Linked DNA regions of Homo sapiens. The protein of the gene in region 1 interacts with the protein of each later gene in a biochemical or structural test. Each region holds a gene or a part of one and is shown on either strand. Other genes may lie near its edges.

Region 1 (5,464 bases):
TGGCATAAGAAGCCGCATCGCAGCATAGACTGGGATGGAGAGGAGGAGGTCGGGGGACAGATTGCTCTCTGGGGTCCTGGGCTGTGAAGAGGCAGCTGCTGGAAGGAGAGAGGGGGCCAGGGTTTCCTGGGTGCCATCAGAAGGCAGACTAAAAGTAGGCAGCCTGATGGGGGTGCCAGGGTGGGGTTGGGGCAGCGGGAGCTGGCAGTGGGTCTGGGCTCAGGGAGACATTCCCTGGGACCGCCCCCCAAAGGACTTTTGACAGCCCTGTTGGTTTGGGGGCCTTGTGACATTTGGACCAACCAGGGCAAATCTCTATCTGCTCTGAGGGCCTCTTCTGCCTGCATAGGCATGGTCACCTTCAGGCTGGGGTGTCAGGAGCTTTGAGAGGGGCACAACCAGAGCCCTGGGGGCCCTCACAGAGCAAGCAGTGTCTCAGTGGGGCCCACAGGAAGGTTTAGAGAGGGCAGGGCACAGGTGTTGCAGGGACAGGCATGGCATAGGCCACAGCCCGATGGGGGCGGGCAGGGCTGGGAGTGTGTGAGGAGACCCGCTGTAAGCAGGACTGTCCTGGAGACGGTGCCAGCCAAAGATTGGGTAGCACTGACCCGCTGCCACACATGGCTCAACTTGGCCAAGGCTGCCTGGTGGCTGCGGGTATTAGAGCTGGGCCGTAGACAGAAACCACAGGGCTGGGAGGTGGCATCTGACTGTGACCGCCTGGCTGGGGCAGGGAGGGACCCACCTCAGGCTGTGGGGCTGGCAGAGACTGGGCACCCTGTGGCCTGTAGCCTTGGCTAGGTCTTGGCAGGGATGGGGAACCTCCCGGGCCCAGGCCTGGGTGCCCCAGTGCCTGGCCAGGGGGATGGGGGGACTCCTCTTCCCGCTGTGAGCTCACAGCCCCCCTCGACCCCAGAAACTGGAGGAGCAGGACCGCCGGGCACTGAGCATCAAGGAGCAGCTGCAGCAGGAGCATCGTTTCCTGAAGCGGCGCCTGGAGCAGCTGTCGGTGCAGAGCGTGGAGCGCGTGCGCACAGATAGCACGGGCTCTGCTGTCTCCACGGACGACTCAGAGCAAGGTGGGGCGTGGGGCGCGGGGCAGCCTCACCTGGGCCTCCGGGTGCGCAGTGGTGCAGCTCCCTGGGTGGAGAGGAGGTGCCTGGTGCTGGGGCTGGGGAGAACCCTCCCAGCTCCCTGCTGCACTGGGGTGTGTGTTTGTCACTAAGCGCAGAAGGGACTGGACAGGGAGGGTGGGATGCAGAGGCTGTGTGGCCCGCTGAGGACTGGTGCTTCTGAGGCCGGGTTCTCAGCCAGAGCCCTCCTGGCGTCTGCTGCCCCAGGGCCCAGACAGCGCCCTCCGCACTTCTGCCCCTCTGCCTAGAGCTTCTGCTTCCAGAAAAGGGAGAAATGGGCTGGCACCCTCAGAGTGGCCTGACCCCATCCCCACTCTATTCTCCCTAGAAGTGGACATAGAGGGCATGGAGTTTGGCCCTGGTGAGCTGGACAGTGTTGGCAGCAGCAGTGACGCGGACGACCACTACAGCCTGCAGAGTGGCACCGGCGGCGACAGTGGCTTCGGGCCCCACTGCCGGCGGCTGGGCCGCCCCGCCCTCTCGTAGGCCCGTGCCCTCTGCTCCTTGGCCTGCCTGCCCGCCAGCCACGCGTGTCAGCCCTCCAGTTCTCCTTCAGTTGACGCCAGCCTCTCCACAGGCCCACTGCTGTGCCATTCTGGAAGCTCCAGCTGCTGCTGGGCTGCCTGGCACTGCCCGCTTGCCGGTCAGGGCCTGCCGAGCTGCCTGCCCCTTCCAGCTGGGCAGAGTCCCCTGCAAGGAGGCAGGGCCCAGCTTCCACATCCGGAGCCCTGGTCAGCATAGCCGCCCACGGTCTGTTCTCAGATTCCTAATCATTCCAGAAGTATTAAACGTCATTGCTGCAAACCTCGGCAGGTGCCGTGTGAGGGGCTTAATGACCACCACAGGGAGCTCAGACCCCAACCCTGGATCCCAGGAGAAAGGAGTGGACCGAGGAAGGAAGGAAGGCAAGGCTGTCTGTCCATCCGTCCGTCTGTCCACCTACCTGTCAGTCCACATAGGCTCCTGGCGTGGACAAGGGGTCTGTGAAGGGCGGGAACTGGGTGAGCACCTGGGGCAGGTGGGTGGTTAAGGTCCTTCCCACTTCGCAGGTGTCAGAACCTAGGGCTGGGCTCTCGGGGCCAGGCAGGCCAGCCCAGCCCACGCCGAGCTGGGCAGCGTCTGCTCTGGTAGGACTGTCAGACGCACACGCGCACGCACCTAGACACACCCACTCATGTACATGCTCACACATGCAGACACACCTGGGCGTCCCGAGGTCACATGTTCTGGGGATGATGGCCTTCAGGGGTCATCTGGCAAACAGCCCCTGGGCTGTGCCTGGATCCCCCTCTAGCTCCTGCTCACCCACGCCCACCCAGTAGTCCTGCCTGTCTGCACAGGAGAGGGGCTTCTCTTCCTGGCTGGGGCTGGGGTGAACTGGAGGCTGGTTAAGTTGCAGCCGCTGGGTCCTCGGGGGCTTACTCATCTCCCTTTTTTAAACAAAAAGCAAAAAAGTAAAATGCTGCACTGCCCAGCAGCCCGGTTAGGGCTCCTGGAGCCACCTTAGGAAAGGGCTTCTCATGAGCTCTGCTGCGGCAGCTTCAGCTGGCAGAGAGGCTTTCCCAGAAAAAAAAAAAAAACCATTTTTAAAAAGAAGAAAGCCTAAAGACTCTCGGCCTAGGGACGTCCGTGTGTGCCGCCTCTGTTTCCTGTACCAGATTTTTGTATTCTATTTTCCTAGCTGTTGTTGCGTCCTTGTTTGCTGAGGGGTGGGAGCCACCCAGCGTCTCAGGGACCTGTCCCTCCGTCACGTCGTCAAAGTGTGCCTTGTGTCTTGTGTCAGGCCTTGCCCTTCCCACCAGCATGTCCCTCGTGGCTCAGGGTGCCCCAGGCCTGCCCAGCTAGTGCTGTCCTCCCATCTCCTGTGGGCAGCCCCTCCCGGCAGCCAGGGCTTCCTGGAGGCGATGCAGCCAGGCCCCTGTGGGTGGCACGGAGGGGCTGTGACCTGGTCCCCAGTGTTGCCCTCCCCAGTGGCTGGCAGGGGCCTGCTTGCTCACTAGAGAGATGGATTCTCACCTGTCACCTGACTCGAGCCCCCTGCTTCCTGGCCTAGGCGAGGGTTCCAGGTTTCAGACACTGGCAGCCAATGAAGACTGTGCTCGCTGGGTGGTGCAGGCCTGGCACCAGGAGGCTTGCACCCGCCTTTCCTTCCTGACGTCCTCTGTCCTTGGGGCTGGCCCATAGCAGTGCCTGCCGTGCCTCTGGTACATCTGTAGCCAATTCCCATATCATGGGGAAAATTCGTGTCTATTTTCAGTCGTACGCATAGACGCCCCAGGATGGGGGGCCCACTGTGGCGGAAGGGGGTCCCTGGAAACAACTCTGGCACAGAACCTGCCCTGCAGGCTGTAGGGGGCATGGTGCCTGGAGCTGAGGGGCATCCGAACGCGTTGCGGGTGGTTGTGAGGAGGCCTGTCTGCATCTCCTTCCGGCCCCACTGGGGTCCAGGGGTGCCCAGAAAGGAGCTTCCCCTGCCTGCCTGAGTCTGTCCCCCCAGGCTTCATTTCAAACACCGTGGCACCTCCGAGCAAGGCGGGCCGTGTGTAAAAGCTTGCTTCCCCAGCCAGCACTGCAGGGCCCTGAGGTGGTCGTGTCCCTGCCCTCAATTCTTGAAGCACCAGCTCCCTGCCCCACCCTCCAGTGCCTGAGGCAGCTAGGGGCTTCTGCTCTCATCTCTGACCAGCAGAATCCACCCGGTGACCAGTGGTGGCCCCTCAGCCCACCCTCCCGGCAGCTCAGCCTGTGGCTCTTGAGGCCGTGGTTCCCACGTGGACTGGGAGGCAGTCTCAGCCACCCGGGGTGCTGTTCAGCTGCCCCTCCCTGCCATCAGCAGGTGGGTGAGGGGTTGCCCACTGGGTGGGGGCCCGTGCTAGGAGTCACCACATGCTCCAACCTCCCACTGCTCCCTGTCAGGGGCCCAGGCTGCCATCACTGGAGGCTGCAGGGACCAAGAGGCCATCACCGTGTCTATAGAGAGCAGACAGAAGCAGAACAGAGCCCGGGGCTCCTGAGCCTCTGCGTGTGCCCTCCCAGCCCACACCAGTGCTCTCGGCCACTGAGCACCCAGACTCAGGCTTGGGTTCCCCAGCCTTATTGGAAGGCAGCTCCCGCATACCAGGATAACCCCCGCAAACCACATAGCAGACCCCCGCCATCCTCGCAGAGTGGGAGAGGCTGCAGCAAGGCTTTGCCTCTGCAGACCCCATCTTAGTGGCACGGTGCTTGGGCCTGTGTCCCCGGGTGGTGGAACCCTGTACCGGTCTGTGGCCCTAGGGTCCCTGCTCTGTCTGCCCCGGCCCGTGCTGTCCGCTGGGTGAGGCAGGCTCCCCCGTGCCCTGCCTCCCTCTGTCAGGGAACCTGGGACCCCCTCCCCACTGCCTGCACAGAGGACCCTGACCCTCGGCCAGCAGGGTGGCCCCAGGTCCATGTTGGGCACTAGGGCAGGTTCCGTGCCAGAGTCGGGGGCCACACGAGGGCCTGGTGCCGGTGAGGGGGGCGTGCGCTAGAGGGGGAAAGGGGCCCCCGGCCACCTGTCCACCGTGTGGGCCGTGCTGTGTCCTTATGTCATTGTAATATAAATACAGATTTTTATATCTCACCCTGCTGGCTCCGGCTCTTTCTGTGGTTGTCACTGTCAGCGTGCTTCGCGCCCTGCCCTCGGCCTCCAAGCAGAAAGCCTGGCCCAATGGCACCACGCCATGTGGCCTTCGGGCCGTGGCCCTCGTTGCCCTACCACAGCCTCTTTCCTGGGAGGCCTGACGGAGCACGGCACCCCGTGCCGCCAACCACACCGGGCCCGCCGTCACAGCTGCCTCCCTGGATGCTGTGGCGCCTGGAGCTGGGTGAAGGTGGGGTTGAGGTGGGCGCCCCCATGGGCCTGTTGGCCAACTGGATGCTCTTGTTGCTCTTGTCCCAGAGGCACTGGGACTTTGCCTCTGGCCCTTGTGCTGGGGCCCTGCTGGCCGAGGACAGCCCGCTCCCTGGGGTGCTCCGTGCCAGCCAGGAGCCCTCTGCACAGAGGCTGCTGGCTCTCAGAGCTGCACTGTGAGAATCGCTCTGTACCTGTTCCCAGAACTACCTGGGCACGGCTTCTGCTTCCTGTCATGGGGACCTGCCGTGCTGAGGTGAAGCGAGATGGTGTAGCCAGCTGTCCCCTTGTGCTGGTGGTGACCACGGAGACACAGGCTCCTGTCGTGCCCATCACGGGGTGGTTGTGAGGCGATGAGACTTCACGCAGTGGGGAGAAGAGGCCTTGTTCTCACCCAAGCAAGCCAGGCTGGCTGCCCGCTCCCCCACAGGGAGGCCTTTTGGAGGGAACCCCCTTGGAAGCA
Region 2 (7,286 bases), on another chromosome or scaffold:
CATGCCATAGGGTGGCTTAATTGTACTGGGGTTTTGCTTACATATAAGTACTTTCTGATTTTTTTCATCAATCAGAAAATCTTTAGAAATGTAGAAAAATAAGAATTATTAGATTTCTGTTTTCTTTAACTTGCACCTTAAAATAAGTACCTTAATATTTCATTTGTGTGATTTTATAAATGATCTGTAACTTACTAGCTAGAATGATTACATTTTGTCTATAAGGTCCATCAAATACCATTGTTTTAGCTGTTATCAGTTAGTTGTGTTACCTCTGTGATTGCAGCATTAGATTTGTTAATAGTCACTGTTACAAAGGAAAATGGTTTTGTTTAACTAAAACAAATGAACCCAAGATAACAGTACTGATTAAACATATTTTAAAACCAGACACGTTGTAAGACATAATGTAAGAAAGACCAAAAGTAGTTAGGTACTGAGATTTGCCTTAAAAATATCTGGTGAAAGCATACCACTTTGATTGATGAATGATGTTGACTATTAAAAAATATCTCTTGTACTGATGTTGGGTATATGCATCAAACATATACGTTTTTAGGGATTTTTTTCCCCCTAACCTTTAACAAAAGAAATACATGTTATAGAACATTATGGAAAAGCTAAAAGGAAGAAAATTAAGATAAACTATAATCCTTTTACTCAGAGATAACCATTCTTTGTTTTTTACTGCACACCATGATTCTTCAGAGATAACCATTCTTAATAATAACAGTCTATACTTGTGATTAGTCCTGGTTTCCTAGAAAACAGCACAGACAGGATTAGCTGCTAAGGCTTTGATGGGAGGTGCAGTTTGAGGGCAAGAATGAAGAGAAAAGCTGGTCATAGATTTCTAAAGAAGAGACAGGTGGTTTGCAGTCATGTTAAATAACTCACAGACTTTGTGGACCCACCATACCTTAGAAAGGTCAGATGATAGAGGAATGGATTTGGATTCTGACAAGGATTTGTTTGCAGGCACCTGTCTTTCATTGGTCAAAGTTTTCTACATCTGGCATTGATGCCTCCAAGCTTTTGGATTGTGGTGCTCTGGGAACTAACACCCGGAAGTAGTCAGGGAGTTATAGCCTCCTTTCCATGTTCACAATTCAGGAGTACCTGAATGTACTCCCAAGGTAGCTTGAATCTACCAGAGGTATTAGGAGACTGAGCTTTTCCATTGATTGGCAGCCAAGGCCTGGGTTGAGAAAGGTGAATCTGGGGCCACATATAAACTGTGTTTACCTCAGTACGTTTTTAGTCTTTGTATACATCTTTTTAATATATATTTAAATAAAAATGGGTTCATTTTTAAATAAAAATGGGTTCATTTTTAAATAAAAAATGGGTTCATCATATAACTTACTGGTAATCTGTTATTCTCCTTCAGGATAAATCTTGAAATATCTTTATTAAATATTCAGCATCCTTTAAAATTGCTATATAGTGTTCCACTCTAGCAGTAATTCTTAAAAGGAAATTCTTAAAATTTCAGTTATTTATAGATGGATTGTGGTTTGAAATATTTATTCATTTAATGATAAATTGTCATCTTAAACTTTTATTTAGAAATAGTTTCAAATTTACAGAAAAATTTCCCCAATAAGAACTGTTCAGAGACTACTCATAAACCCTTTACCTAGATTCACCTGTTGTTAACATTTTCCCCACTTGCTGTATCATTTCCACTTTTTACACACCTTTTTCCTTAAAGTTATTTACACCATGGTCCTTTACCTCTGACTTTAATGTGTACTTTCTAAGAGGAGGGATGTTCTCTTTCATAATCACAGTACAATTTACAACTTAAGTAAATTTAATACATAGTAATCTGTCCATTTTCCAGTTATGTTGACTGACCCAGAAGTGTTCTTGATAGCATTTTTCCCCCTCCAGTACAGGATCTAATTTAGGAGCAGGTATTGCATAGTTGTCATGCTTCTTTAGTCTCCTTTAATCTGGATCATTTCCACAGCCTTCCTTTGTCTTTTATAACATTGTTATTTTTGAGAATTAAGACATAAGTGATGTTGTGTCCCTCTCAGGATATCACATCTGGAGGCACATGAGGTCTGTCTGACTCTTATTGATGATATTACTTTTGATCACCCAGTCAAGGTCTAATGTTTCCACTGTGTAGGTATTATTTTTTCCCTTGCAGCTAATAAGTAATATAGGCAGATGCTTTTGGACCATGTAAATCTTGTGCTCCTTTTCAAACTTTGTGCCTGCATTTACCATCTGTTGATGACCCTTGCCTTTATTCTGACGGTCACAAAATGATTTTTCATTTCCAGCACTCCTTTCACATTTACAACTTGGCATTTGGTAATTCTCCTCCTTCCTTACCTACTTATTTATCTTTTTATTATTGGTATGGATGCATGGATTATTCCCCCCACCAATAATTTATAATTTATTTGGCCATTTTGATGCTCAGATTACCCCTAGTTTTAGCTACTGAAAGGCCCCTTCAAGCTGGCTCCTGTGTCTGTCATATGCGTTTTTTTAAAAAGTACATCCTTTCTGGCATGACATGAATGATCTTTTTGAGATTTACTTTGCATTAAAGGTGGTAACTTTGTGGTTAATTTGCTCAGGATATTTCTGGCTCAAGAGTGAGAAGACTGACATAGTTATTTATGAGTCTTAACACTGAAAATTTCACTAAACACACTTAAAAGGATTTGATACCCTTTTACGTATTGAATTGCTTATATTTGAATTTTGTTAGTCAAAAAGTACCTTAAAATTATTTATATTTTTGTGGTTCTGTGAGACTACACATGATAATATAGGGTTGATTTTAAACATGAGAACACTTTAAGGATTTAAAATGATTATTTTAGAACGTTAGCAATATATGAATCTTTAAATTGTTAAACATATATAGTTAAAATAGAATTATATATCCATTGTAATATGATATAAGAGCCAGGTAGTATATTTAGCTATTCCTATTCATTTTAAACTATTGGGTAAGAGCAAACGGATCAACTGTGAAATATCTTTAAAGAAAAAACTATTAGAAGTCTGTACAAAAATTGAATTTATTTGGTGATTATAGTTGTTTTATTGGTTTCTTTTGTTCACTGTTTAATTTCAGATGTTAAGATGTATTAGAAAATTGGATTTTAAAAATATTGAGTATTTTTAAAAAGGTAAACAGTTTTAATTTTATTGGTTTTTATGTAAAATAACTTGTACTTTTTGAAATTTTCCAGTGGGCAGAAATGGATCTGGAAAAAGTAACTTTTTTTATGGTAGGTGTTGCTTTTTGAATTGTAAATATATTAAGACCTGGGTATCTTAGGGTAGATTATTAAAATCATTAATTTTCTGAGGTTATGTATTCATGAAACCCAAGAAATACTTTATATGGGGTTGCAGCTTAGTGTAGAGGGTTTAGAGTATACAGATCTGAATTCTGCTTTATACCCAGTGGCTGATTAGCTGTGTGAGAGTGGGCAAAACACGTAGCCTCTCAAATTTTTCTTTTCACTTTAAAAATGGAGATGTTTGGATGTTTGCCCTGTCTACCTTAGATGGTTTGTAAGAATGGAATGCAATAGTATGTATGAAAATGCTTTTTAAACTTGAATGTAATATATAAATGTTATAAATGCATATTTTAAACGTATGTAAATGCAGTAGAATAGTTGATAGTATTGTTTTGGAAAATTGTTCATCTTTCTTATTTCACCTTTTTGAAAACGTTTTCTAAACCAATCATCTTTGTAAAGGATGAAGAGGTATAAAAAACTTGAAACTGAACAGACTGTTGTCACTTTGAAGATAGTAAATAGAGCTTCAAAAATTCTCTCTAAATTGCATTTAAGTGTAAATAGCAATGCGTCTGTTAACAAATCCTTTGAGGAGAAAAACATTTTAACAAAATTAGACAGTTAAGGAGTAGGTTGAAAAATTTGAACTTTTTAGTTGGGTAATGCTTGAGGGAAAGGGGCATTTAGTGGACTGGCTTAGTAAGAACAAAGGTTCTATCTCTTCTGTGCACACGAATCTGAAAGGCACTCTCTAGCCTGTATATCCTATTGTGGTTGTAATTTGGCAATGATGAGAGAATGGACTGAAGTGGAAGTATTTCAGAATCTCCAGGGCAGTGTGAAGTCTCCTCACCTCGACCTGTGTCCACAGCACACACATTAATGCTTATGCACGTACTTGCTGATGTGGGCACCCCCACCACCTCCACACACACACAGTGCCAGAGGTCTCTTGGGTGGACTGGGACAAGAACAGCTGAGTAAAGAGTTCCACTTCCTAGGCAGGGTGGTCCAGTTAGGTACTCTATACCGAAGTAGGAACGGCCCCTTCTTACAGAGCTCGGTATAGTATAAGAAGTGTAGTATAAGTTGGGCATCTCAAACATTTCCCTGTATTTCCTTAGTTTTATTTCTTTTGGTAAAGTATCCACTTAAGCATATTCTCAAAATACATCCTATTTTGTTAAAAAGGATTTTAACTCATATCATTTATGTCTAGTGGGGAAAAAAGCAAATACAGTGTTAACCTAATCCAGTCAGTGAACACTTTGAGCCAGAGGTATACCTTAGTTTTGCTTGTCTGTTTTCATGTATTTCGGTGGTTTCTCTTTATTTCCTTACCTTAAATGTTTCAATGAAAACTTCTCAGTATTTTTCTTATATCATTTCCTACCTGATTAGTCTGATGTGCAGGCACATTTTCTGCATTTCCTTTTGTCCATATGAAACAGATAATTTATTTGCATTGTCTATTACCAGACACACTATGTTCTATTGAGGTGTGGGAAGTTATAAATAAGTTATAAACACTTTTTTAGGGTATACTAATAGTTGTTTTTGTATTTCCAGCAATTCAGTTTGTTCTCAGTGATGAGTTTAGTCATCTTCGTCCAGAACAGCGGTTGGCTTTATTGCATGTGAGTGAGACTGCTTTAAGACATTATTGATATTACATATATTTTAAAAATAAATTTTCCATGCTGGTTAAAAAAGCATTTGTTCAAGTTTCAGATTCTTTGTGAACAAGACACAATCTTTCTCATAAGTGTGTTACTCTGCTGTGAAATTTAGCCTAACATATTAATGCCAGATAAAAGCCCAATTTTTATACAGTGGTTTAGGAGAAAATTATAGGATTTGCCTATAGATGGATATGTCCTCCATATAAATGTCTTAAAGGAGACATGATATATATCATAAGTGTTTTATTCTGCTGTGAAATTTAGCCTAACATGTTAATGCCAGATAAAGGCCTAATTTTTATGTGATGGTTAGGAGAAAATTATAGGATTTGCCTATAGGTGGGTATGTCCTCCATGTACATTTCTTTAAGGATGTGATCTGCAAAGGCTTAAGAAGCAGGTTTGCTGAGGAGAAAGAAGAGTTTGAGGTTGCAGATTAGGAACTTTAAGATGCAGAACCAAAAATTAATTGGGAACATAGAGAAACAACCATTGCAAACTAAACAACATACAAGTTGTTTGTTGTTTTAGCCATATTTGTACTTAGATAGTAAACATCATTTTCCAGTATGAAAAACAGTAGAGATGTTCTGCAACTTACAGCGGGGTTATGTCCTAATAAACCTATCATAAACTGAAAATACCATAAGTCAAAAATGGACATTAGCCTACAGTTGAGCAAAATGATCTAACACAAAAGTCTGTTTTATAATAAAGTGTTGAATCTGTCATATAATTTATTGAATACTATGCTGAAAGTAAAAAACAGTGATTTTATGGATACTCAAATTATGGTTTCTACTGAATGTAGACTGCTATCACGTTGTCATTCAGCCATTTGTTGAACCATCGTAAGTTGGGGACCACCTGTATATTTACAGTAATGTGAGTTAGGATATTTTATTAAGTGGGTCCTTTTGTAATGCATAAGCACGATGATTGGGTTTTCGTGTTCATGTGAGTCATGCCTCCCTCAAACCTTGTTAGGACATTGGCACATTACCAATGTGATGTGGAAAAAAATATGAGTAATGGACTAAAGTAATTTTAGGATAGAAAATCATGAAAGACTACAATAAAACGATTAATCCTTCTGATTTGAATATTGTTTATTAAAGACTAGAAAATGAAATTCCTCAACATGTCTTAACAGTGTTTCTCACACATAGGAAATTGTTTTGTTTAGCTCTTGTCTGTCTTTTCCCCTTGTTTAGTTTGAATTTGTAGCCCAGTAATCAGAATTGATTTCCTTTAGAAAAATTCTTTTTAGGTTTTTCAGATTGGCATTAAAATAATTAATAACCTCTTTGGTACAGTTCTTCATTGTATTTACTACATAGTTTCTATAATCTGGAAGGTATCTGGACTTGGTACCATAGTTTTTGTGTCATAGATTGGTTTAAATGTGACACATGTTAAATGTGTATATTTCTATAATAGATTTAAAACTGTAGAATGTCTCAATTTTTCTTAAAAAACAGACTTTTGGTAATTATCCCATGATTTATTAGGATTTCTTTGCAGCATTAAAATGAGACTGTAAGAGAAAAGCCTCATGGTGTATTAGATATTAGCAAATAGGTAGAGTTAAATGTCCCCAGTCTTGCAGTCTAATAAAGTGGTCTGTAGAATCATATTTAAGGATATCTAACTTTGACATGTCTTGCATAGCTCTTATTTTTTATTTAGAATCAAAAGCTATTTGGTTGAGAAGTTTTGTTGTCCTAATCTAACGTCTCTGCTGTTTTGGCAAGAGGGATATATACTATAACTCTGGGGATATCCCCAAAGTATGTATCCCTCTTGCCAAAAGAGCAGAGACGTTAGATTAGTGTGTGTGTGTATATATGAATCTAGCAGAAATTTTTCTCCATTGAATCAGACTTGTTATTATGCCCTAGACTTTAAGAATCCTTTAAAGGATATGAATATACAACTTAAATGGCAAATTTCTCACTTCTTTCATTTTTAGGAAGGTACTGGTCCTCGTGTTATTTCTGCTTTTGTGGAGATTATTTTTGATAATTCAGACAACCGGTTACCAGTAAGTAACTTTTTTTTTAAAGTAATGTTGAGAATTTAATTGGTTTAGCTGATTTTCTTCATACTTTGAAACTTTTTAAGCTTTTATAATTTGTTATAATTACAGTTTATATACTGATTTTATCTTAAAATGACAATGAATACTCTGTTAACAAATGGGAATGTACAAACTGTTGTGAAAAGTGTCTTGGTTAAGAGTATTGAGTATTTGTAGTATTATTTTTAGTGAGATAATTGAAATTTTAAAATAAATACTTATGGGCAAGGACTTTAAAAT

The links.
Region 2: the proteins of MXD4 (region 1) and SMC3 form a complex in vitro, tested with the Homo sapiens proteins (one study listed by BioGRID).

Annotation. Positions count from the first base shown.
Region 1 is NC_000004.12:2,246,699-2,252,162, reverse strand, and holds the end of MXD4 (max dimerization protein 4), read left to right. Parts: intron 1-916; coding exon 917-1,079; intron 1,080-1,461; coding exon 1,462-1,619; 3' UTR 1,620-4,731; downstream 4,732-5,464. UniProt on the Homo sapiens protein: Transcriptional repressor. Binds with MAX to form a sequence-specific DNA-binding protein complex which recognizes the core sequence 5'-CAC[GA]TG-3'.
Region 2 is NC_000010.11:110,570,483-110,577,768, forward strand, and holds part of SMC3 (structural maintenance of chromosomes protein 3), read left to right. Parts: intron 1-3,224; coding exon 3,225-3,263; intron 3,264-4,853; coding exon 4,854-4,921; intron 4,922-5,877; exon of another isoform or gene 5,878-5,979; intron 5,980-6,938; coding exon 6,939-7,010; intron 7,011-7,286. UniProt on the Homo sapiens protein: Central component of cohesin, a complex required for chromosome cohesion during the cell cycle. The cohesin complex may form a large proteinaceous ring within which sister chromatids can be trapped.